Regions from separate parts of the Homo sapiens genome. Here all the other regions are linked to region 2. Evidence: fine-mapped expression QTL. A gene starts in region 2. Each other region holds a variant in brackets. All regions are shown on one strand. Distances are from middle to middle.

The links. PIP is the estimated chance that this variant, and not a neighbour inherited with it, causes the effect. A credible set is the group of variants that fine-mapping cannot tell apart.
Region 1: its variant is the best candidate, but not a certain one, in a credible set for the expression of LYRM1 in monocytes (Fairfax 2014, PIP 0.53).
Region 3: its variant is the best candidate, but not a certain one, in a credible set for the expression of LYRM1 in whole blood (TOPMed, PIP 0.83).

What each region holds. Positions count from the first base shown.
Region 1 is chr16:20,919,548-20,922,307 of GRCh38, reverse strand. It overlaps LYRM1 (LYR motif containing 1), which reads right to left. Exons shown (of 4, transcript NM_001128302.3): 3 at 2,094-2,186. Among named protein-coding and RNA genes, the nearest start is that of LYRM1, 20 kb to the right of the region's middle. The variant A/TTATA (reference allele first, on the strand shown) is at 1,367.
Region 2 is chr16:20,899,300-20,902,059 of GRCh38, reverse strand. LYRM1 (LYR motif containing 1) reads right to left here and starts at 1,289. Exons shown (of 4, transcript NM_001128302.3): 1 at 1,171-1,289. It overlaps DCUN1D3 (defective in cullin neddylation 1 domain containing 3), which reads left to right and starts at 1,702. Exons shown (of 3, transcript NM_173475.4): 1 at 1,702-1,856. RefSeq lists enhancers at 312-1,097, 1,098-1,883, 2,093-2,142.
Region 3 is chr16:20,925,161-20,927,920 of GRCh38, reverse strand. No RefSeq gene overlaps it. Among named protein-coding and RNA genes, the nearest start is that of LYRM1, 26 kb to the right of the region's middle. The variant G/A (reference allele first, on the strand shown) is at 1,659.

The DNA.
Region 1 (2,760 bases), 20 kb before region 2:
ATCATTTAAAAAAGATTGGGCTGGGCGTGGTGGCTCATACCTATAATCCCAGCACTTTAGGAGGCCAAGGCAGGCGGATCACTTGAGGCCAGGAGTTCGAGACCAGCCTGGCCAACATGGTGAAACCCTGTTACTACTAAAAATACAAAAATTAGGTGGGTGTGGTGGTGTACCTGTAATCTGTAATCCCAGCTACTCAGGAGGCTGAGGCAGGTGAATCCCTTGAACCCAGGAGGCTGCAGTGAGCCAAGATTGCGTCACTGCACTCCAGACTGGGTGACAGAGTGAGGCTCTGTCTCAAAAAAAAAAAAAGATTGAGGGAGAGCTACATACAAAGATGTGCAGAAGACATGAAGTAAAATAAGTACGCAGTATAACATTATATCCAGAATCCTACATATGTAAAGAAAATGTAGGTACATGAATACAGAAAAAAAGACTAAAAGGGTATACTACCAAACTAATTAGGTTGAGCCACTACAATATAAAATTGCTGTTTTTGTAGCTAAAAGAGTTGAATATTGGCAATTTTCCATTTAACAGTTAAAGTGTTCACCCTCTGCACAATGAGAAATTTTTTTTTTTTTTTTTTTTTTTTAAGAAATTTGGGCTGGGCGCAGTGGCTTACGCCTGTCATCCTAGCACTTTTGGAGGCCACGGTGGGCAGATTGCCTAAGCTCAGGAGTTCAAGACCAGCCTGGGCAACATGGTGAAACCCTGTTTCTATTAAAATACAAAAAATTAGCTGGGTGTGGTGGTGCACGACTGTAGTTCCACCTATTCGAGAGGTTGAGGAATGAGAATCACTTGAACTGGGAAGGCAGAGGTTGTAGTGAGCAGAAATCATGCTGCACTCCAGCCTGGGCGACAGAGTAAGACTCTGTCTCCAAAAAAACGAACAAACAAAAAAGATTTCTGGCCAGGCACGGTGGCTCATGCCTGTTATCCCAGAGCTTTGGGAGGCTGAGGTGGGAGGATTGCTTGAGCCCAGGAGTTCAAGACCAGCCTGGGCAACACAGTGAGACCTCCATCTCTACAAAAAATTAAAACATTAGCTGGGCGTGGTGGCACATGCTTGTAGTCCCAGCTACTTGGGGAAGTGAGGTGGGAGAATCACTTTAGCCTGGGAGGTCAAGGCTGCAGTGGGCCATGACTGTACCACTGTACCTAGCTTGGGTGATGAAGCGAAGACTCAGTCTCCACAAATAAATAAATAAATAAAACTTCTTTTAAATTAAATTATTGTTTTAAATTTATGGTATGAAAGAATTTAAGAAAACATAAATTTATATACATTTATTATTTTAAATTCATATAAATTTGAAATTTATTTTGTTTCTTAACTTTCTGAATGTATTAAGTTTAT[A/TTATA]TAATTTTTTTATTTTAAATTTATATATATAAATTTAAGTTTTATTTATTTTTTGAGACAGGGTCTCACTCTGTCACCCAGGCTGGAGCGCAGTGGTGTGATCATGGGTCACTGCTGCCTCAACCTCCTGGGCTGAAGCAATTCTCCCACCTCAGTTCCCCAAGTAGCTGGGAATACAGGAGTGTGTCACTATGCCTGGCTAATTTTTAAATTTTGTATAGCAATGGGGTCTCACTGTGTTGCCCAGGCTGGTCTCAAACTCCTAACCTCAAGTGATCCTCCTGCCTTGGCCTCCCAAAGTGCTAGGATTATAGGCATGAGCCGCAGTGCCTAGCCTGGATGAGAATTTTTGACCATTTTTACTTTCTACTTTATGCATTCCTTTCATGTTTGAACTTTATTCTTTTAGTAACAACAAACCTGCCTTTTATAATTAAACACATTTCCATAAAAAAGATGAAAGTGAAAAGAGAAAAAGCTCTACAGTGTGAGCTGGTTTTCCCTTCCATACGTGGAAAGCTATGTAAGCAGGATACGTCATGCATTCATTGACATTTTACTTTGTTGTGATGGGCTGGCAGCATGCAATGATAGCTTATTTCCAACATGCCTCCCACAGCAGCTCTGGGCTTCTCAGCAAGCACTCGCCCTCTTGTTACACATTCTTGGAAATAACCAGGTTGATGAGGGTAAGTACCCAGCACTTGTTAACCGGAGTCACACTTACTGGCCTTGGGTAAGGAATCTTGTAATGCAGTCCAATTTCAATCCTGGCTGTGCATTCATCTATACACTGTTTAATTAGGTCTGTGTCCGTGAGCTATTAAAAGGGAGAAAGAAATGAGGCTGATAGTATCTTTCTAATGGTACATAGAGTATAGGTATACATTTTCTCAAACTTTTTTAGTTCACTAGCCAGTAAATGAAATGTTACTAATTTGGAAAATCAAAAGCAATTTAATATTAAAGCTTACCATAAACTTTTAAAATCGTTAAAGTAGGTAAAAATAATTCAAATAATACAAAAGGATGTAACATAAGAACTACGTTTCCCTCTTACTCCTCTATTCCAGTTCCTCATCTCGGAGACAACAATTAGCAGTTTCTTGTGTGTTCTTGCAGGGGTATTCTATGTATATGTGAAAATGCACATGTATGTAGAAGCTGATTATTTTTCTCACACAAACAATAGCTCCCTTTGTTCTGAACCTTGCTTTTTCATGAACATAACTTGAGGTTCCTTCTATATTCTATCTATAGAGCTGCTCCCTTCTTTTTAACAGCTATATAAAATTCCAACAGAAGGCTTTATTATAATTTCACCAATCTCCTACCCATGGATAATTAAGTTATTTCCAATTTTTTGCTATTATAAATGATTCCGCTATGGATCT
Region 2 (2,760 bases):
GGCTCACTGCAACCTCCACCTCCCGGGTTCAAGCGATTCTCCTGAGTAGCAGAGATTACAGGCGCGTGCCACTACGCCCAGCTGATTTTTGTATTTTTAGTAGAGATGGGGTTTCACCATGTTGGCCAGGATGATCTCGATCTCCTGACCTCGTGATCCGCCCGCCTAGGCCTCCCAAAGTACTGGGTTTATAGGCGTGAGCCACCGCGCCCGGCCGGCCCTTTCAACACTATCTTCACCTCTCCTTTGTCTTACAGTGCAACAGTCTCCTAACAGGTCTAACTACTTCCACCCTTCTCTATCCAGCAGGCAGAGCGGATTTTTAAAAATGTAAATCAGGTCAGGTCACTTCCCTTCTTAAAACCCTTAAGGTACACATTAGCCAAACCCCTGCCTTGGGCTAAAAGGCGCTGCTACAGTCATGCCACTTCCCCAACTACATCACAGGGCACTCCGGCCCTGGCTCTGTTTGCTTCAGCCACATGGCCTTCTGGCTGTTTCCAACCTAAAAGTCCTTCTCATTGGCTCTTCTCTCCACCCAGAAAACCCATTGTCTCGGATCCCCGCAAAACCGTGGCCTCCTTTGAACGACCTTACCCGATTTCGAGGGGCCCTCCCCCCATCTTCTGTCACCTCATCCGGTCTTTGGGGGGCATTTCTCACTTGCTGATACCTTCTTTATTGATTTACTTAACTCTCTCCTGCACACGAATGGAAGGTAACGGAGCAACACCCTACTCTCAGGTTTGAAGAGCAAGAGAATTACGAAGCTGGCTCTCACGGTCCTAGGGAGTCTCCGTTCCTGTACGGGACCTGGTGTGGGTCAACGTTCCCCAGCCAGACACCTCTCGCCCCCGGACCGGCCCCTACCATCTCCCATTTACATTCGGGGGTCCAAAAGATTCACAGCCTCCGAGGGGGCCCCACGCCGGCACCTGAGCGTCCCCACACCAGGCCTCCCCTCTTGGACGCGCGAGCCACTTCCGTGAGGCAGGTCCCCGAGGCCGGTGGCGATGACACCGAGCCGCCCCCGCGAAGCTGGGGTCACACAGGCCCGTCTCCCGGCAACGCCGCAGCCCAACCTCCAAACCATCCCTGCCCGTGGGGAGCCAACCCCTTCCCCGCCAGTCTCCCGCGCCTGGAGTCGGCGCCTCCATCCCCTACACTCACTCTGCGTCAGTCCTGCCTTCCCCCACCCACAGAAGCGCGCAGCCCGCGGCGGGCTGGGAGGAGGCGGCGCCAGGAGCCCAGCAGAGCCGTGGCCGACCGAGCACAGGCTGGTCCAGTAGGCCAGGCCGGACCAAACCACCGGGCCCACCTCTGTGGGAGCACCAGTTCCAGGTCTGGGGGAGTCTCGACTGACTGACTCTACCCATCTCCCGCCGCATCCAACAATAAGCTGAGCTCCTCCTCCCCCTATTTTTCCTTTACGCTTTCATTATCCTCCCCGCTCCATTCCCGTAAAACAAGAAAAAAAAATGGTCCAGCCCAGCTCCCTCCGGGTTGCTAGGTCTTTGCCCTTACTTGGCGACGGCTTCGTACGTCTTTATGTGCGTCGTGACGCAATCTTCCACTCGTTCCCTCCTTGCCCCTCTCCCATTCTCCCTCCTGGAGCTGGCGGCCGGCGGGGTTACCGGAAGTGATGATGCAGGAGGCGATGGAGGGGGCGGGGCTTCGGGGCGGCCGCCGCCGGTGGGCCGCAGATGAAGAGGAGGCGGTGGCAGTGGTGGAAGAAGAGGCGGCGGCGGCGGGGGTAGGGAGCCTGGAAACGCGAGCGGGGATGGTAGGTGGTTTGGACCCGCCGGGCCGCCGTCGTTTCCAGAAAGGGTTTGACTGGAGGAACCTCTGGAGCAGCTGTGAGTTTTGGGGAGGGGGGGAGTTGAGGAAAAGGCGGGGGGGCATTGAGAGATGAAGGGGCGGGGGTTGGGTACCTTCGAGAAAGGGGGGTGGAAAGGGAGGAGTGGAAGTCAGCGCGTTGTCTGGAGTGGTACCTCTGAAAGAAGAGGCTGTGAGGGGAGCCTGTGGCGTGTCAGCCGCAGGGCTCAGAAAACTTACCTACTGTCCCTGCCTCCCCACCGCCAGCACCCCTCAACCCAGGGCCTGGGGATATGGGGTTGGAGCTGCCCTGGAGGGGGTGCAGACTCTGGTCCTCTGTCCTGGGTGAGCGCTGTGAGGTAGGAGCCCTAGGGGGAGGTGGTGGGTGAATCTCCCAGCTCCCTCCGCCCTCATTTCCCTCCCCACCCCCATCGTTCTCTTTAATCATTAACAGCCCTGGAATTAAGGGGCTCAGACCTGAAGGCCTTTTTGTGCACCTTTGCTATAAACGATAACCATCTGTGTCCGAGGTAATGAGGCTGGAGGCTTTGCCTGTATCCTCTATAGGAAGTGGGACGGGGTGACAAATGTATTGTTTGTTCCTCCACCACACCCCCCGCACTTCTCACCCCTCATCCTCCCCCATGCACACCCCTGGTTTCCACTTTAATTCTCTGTGGCTGAGTGGCAATAGTGGATTTTTTTTTCTTCCCCTTTCCTCCTTTATGGCACTTAGTGCCTTGGTTACCTCTTTTGAATTTGGTGTTCAGCCTCTATCCCAGATCTTAACTGTAAGCTTTGTAATACTTCATACAGGCTGTCACGTTGGGAGTACCTCTTACGCTCCGATTATAATGAGCATTTTCTTTTATGAATACTGGAATTCCAGAGCCTTTGCAAGGAATCCTGAATGGCATCATAGCCCAGGAATCAAGGTCTCTTGCT
Region 3 (2,760 bases), 26 kb before region 2:
TGAGGTCTCAGATGGAAATGAGGAACAAGGTATTAGAAACTGGAGTAAAGTCCATCTTTGTTATACAGTTGCTAATAACTTGGTGGAACCATGTCTATGTCCTAGGACTTTGTGGAAGGCAGAACTTAAGAGTGATGAACATATCTGGCAAAAAAAAAAAAAATATCTAAGCAGCAAAGCATTCAAGGCTTTGAATGGCTTCTTTTGGTGGCTTATAGTAAAATGAGAGAAGAAAGAAATGACTTAAAGATGGAATGTGTGATGAAAAAGGAAGCAGAATAAGATTTGGAAAATTCTCAGCCTGTTGCCCAGGCTGGAATGCAGTGGCATGATCTCTGCTCACTGCAACCTCTGCCTCCTGGGTTCAAGCGATTCTCCTGCCTCAGCCTCCCAAGTATCTGGGATTACAGGCACCCGCCACCACGCCCAGCTAATTTTTGTATTTTTAGTAGAAACGGGGTTTTGCCGTGTTGGCCTGATCTCGAACTCCTGATCTCAGGTGATCCACCCACCTCGGCCTCCCAAAGTGCTGGGATTACAGGCATGAGCCACTGTGCCTGGATTTAAAGAATTTTTAAAAAGCATGTTCAGTAGAGAAAATTAAGGGTTTGGTCAAGCAGCCCTTTTAAAAGAGATTAATATGAGTAGAAGGAAGCCAGGGTTTATTCATCAAGACAATGGGAAAATAACCCCAAAGGCATTTCAGAGATCTTTGAGGCAAGCTAGGACCTTGAGGGCAAGGTTTCCAGAGAGGTGCAGATAAATTCCAAGCTCAGCTGCCCCAGCCATGGCTCAAATGGGCCCACATGGGTCCTGCCACTCCAGAAAGTACAAGCTGTAGATCAGTATCATTATATATATATATATATATGTATTGAAACATCAAATTGCACCCTATAAATATATACAATTATAATGTACAATTTGTCCCATTTCTGTTTAGATACAATGTGTCAATTAAAAAGATAATTTTTGTAAAAGTACAAGCCGTGAACCTTGGCAGCATCCATGTGATGCTAATTCTACAGGTGCACAGAAAACAAGTGCTGTGGTGCCTTGGCAGGCTCCACCTCCATCTCAAAGGATGTTGCAGACAGTCTGGGGACTCAGGAAGACATTTGTCACAGGGGCAGGGCCATTTCAGAGTCCCCACTAGGGCAATGGCTAGTGGAGCCATGAGAGTGGGGCAGTTCTTGAGGCCCCAAACTGTAAGGCCGCCAGTGTGTAACTCCAGCCTGAGATAGCTGCAGGCATGAGATTCCAACCCATGAGAGATGCTGCATAGACCGAGTCCAGCTGCCTGAGGCCTTGGGGGGCCAATTTCCTACCCCAGTGTGCCCAGGATTTAGGACATGCAGTCAAAGATGAGTATTCTGATATCTTCAGTTTTTTTTTTTGTTGTTTTTTTTTTGAGATGGAGTCTCGCTGTGTTGCCAGGCTGGAGTGCAGTGGCGTGATCTTGGCTCACTGCAACCTCCACCTCCTGGGTTCAAGCAATTCTCCTGACTCAGCCTCCCGAGTAGCTGGGATTACAGGTGTGTGCCACCACACCCAGCTATTTTTTGTATTTTTAGTAAAGACAGGGTTTCATCATGTTGGCCAGGATGGTCTTGATCTCTTGACCTCGTGATCCACCTGCCTCGGCCTCCCCAAGTGCT[G/A]GGATTACAGGCGTGAGCCACCATGTCTGGCCTATCTTAAGATTTGATATTGTTTTCTATCTTGGGTTTTACACTCACTTGGGAAGTTACCCCTTTCTTCTTGCCTATTTCTTCCTTTTGGAATGGGAATGCCTATTTGATGCCTGTCCTGCAATTGTATCCTGGTAGTAGATAAAACAGGCTCACAGCTGGAGGGAAATTTACCTCAGGATGAATTGTGCCTTGAGCCTCACCCATATCTGATTTAGATCAGTCTGGAATTTGGACTTTTGAGTTGACACTGAAACAAGTTGAAACTTCTGGGCTACTGGGATAGAATGTATTTTGCATGTGAGAATGACATGAGTTTTGGGGGCCAGGGATAGAATGCTATGATTTAAATGTGTCGTCTGAAGTTCATGTGTTGGAAACTTAATCACCATTGCAACAGTGTTGAGAAGTAGGGCTTTTAAGAGGGGATTAGATCATGAGAGCTCTGCCCTCATGAATGAATGTCATAATGGCAGGTGTGAGTTCATTATCACGAGACTGGGTTTGTTATAAAAGTGAGTTTGGCCCTCTCTCACTCTCTCTCACCATGTGATGCCTTCTGCCTTATAACGACACAGCAAGAAGGCCCTCACCAGGTGCAGACTCCTCAATCTTGTAGTTCCTGGCCTCCAGCACTGTTAAGACATAAATCTCTGTTTTTCATAAAGTACCTAGTGTTAGATATTCCATTATAGCAGCACAAAGTGTACTAGTTGCATTTGTGTTAAATATGCACACACTGAGGCCTGGCGTGGTGGCTCACGCCTGTAATCCCAGCACTTTGGGAGGCTGAGGCGGGCGGATCACCTGAGGTCAGGAGTTCAAGACCAGCCTGACCAACATGGAGAAACCCCGTCTCTACTAAAAATACGAAATTAGCCAGGCATGGTGGCACATGCCTGTAATCCCAGCTACTCGAGCGGCTGAGGCAGGAGAATTGCTTGAACCCAAGAGGCAGAGGTTGCGGTGAGCTGAGATTGCACCATTGCATTCCAGCCTGGGCAATGTGAGCAAAACTCCGTTTCAAAAAAAAAAATTTTATATATATACATATACTATTACTCCACTGATA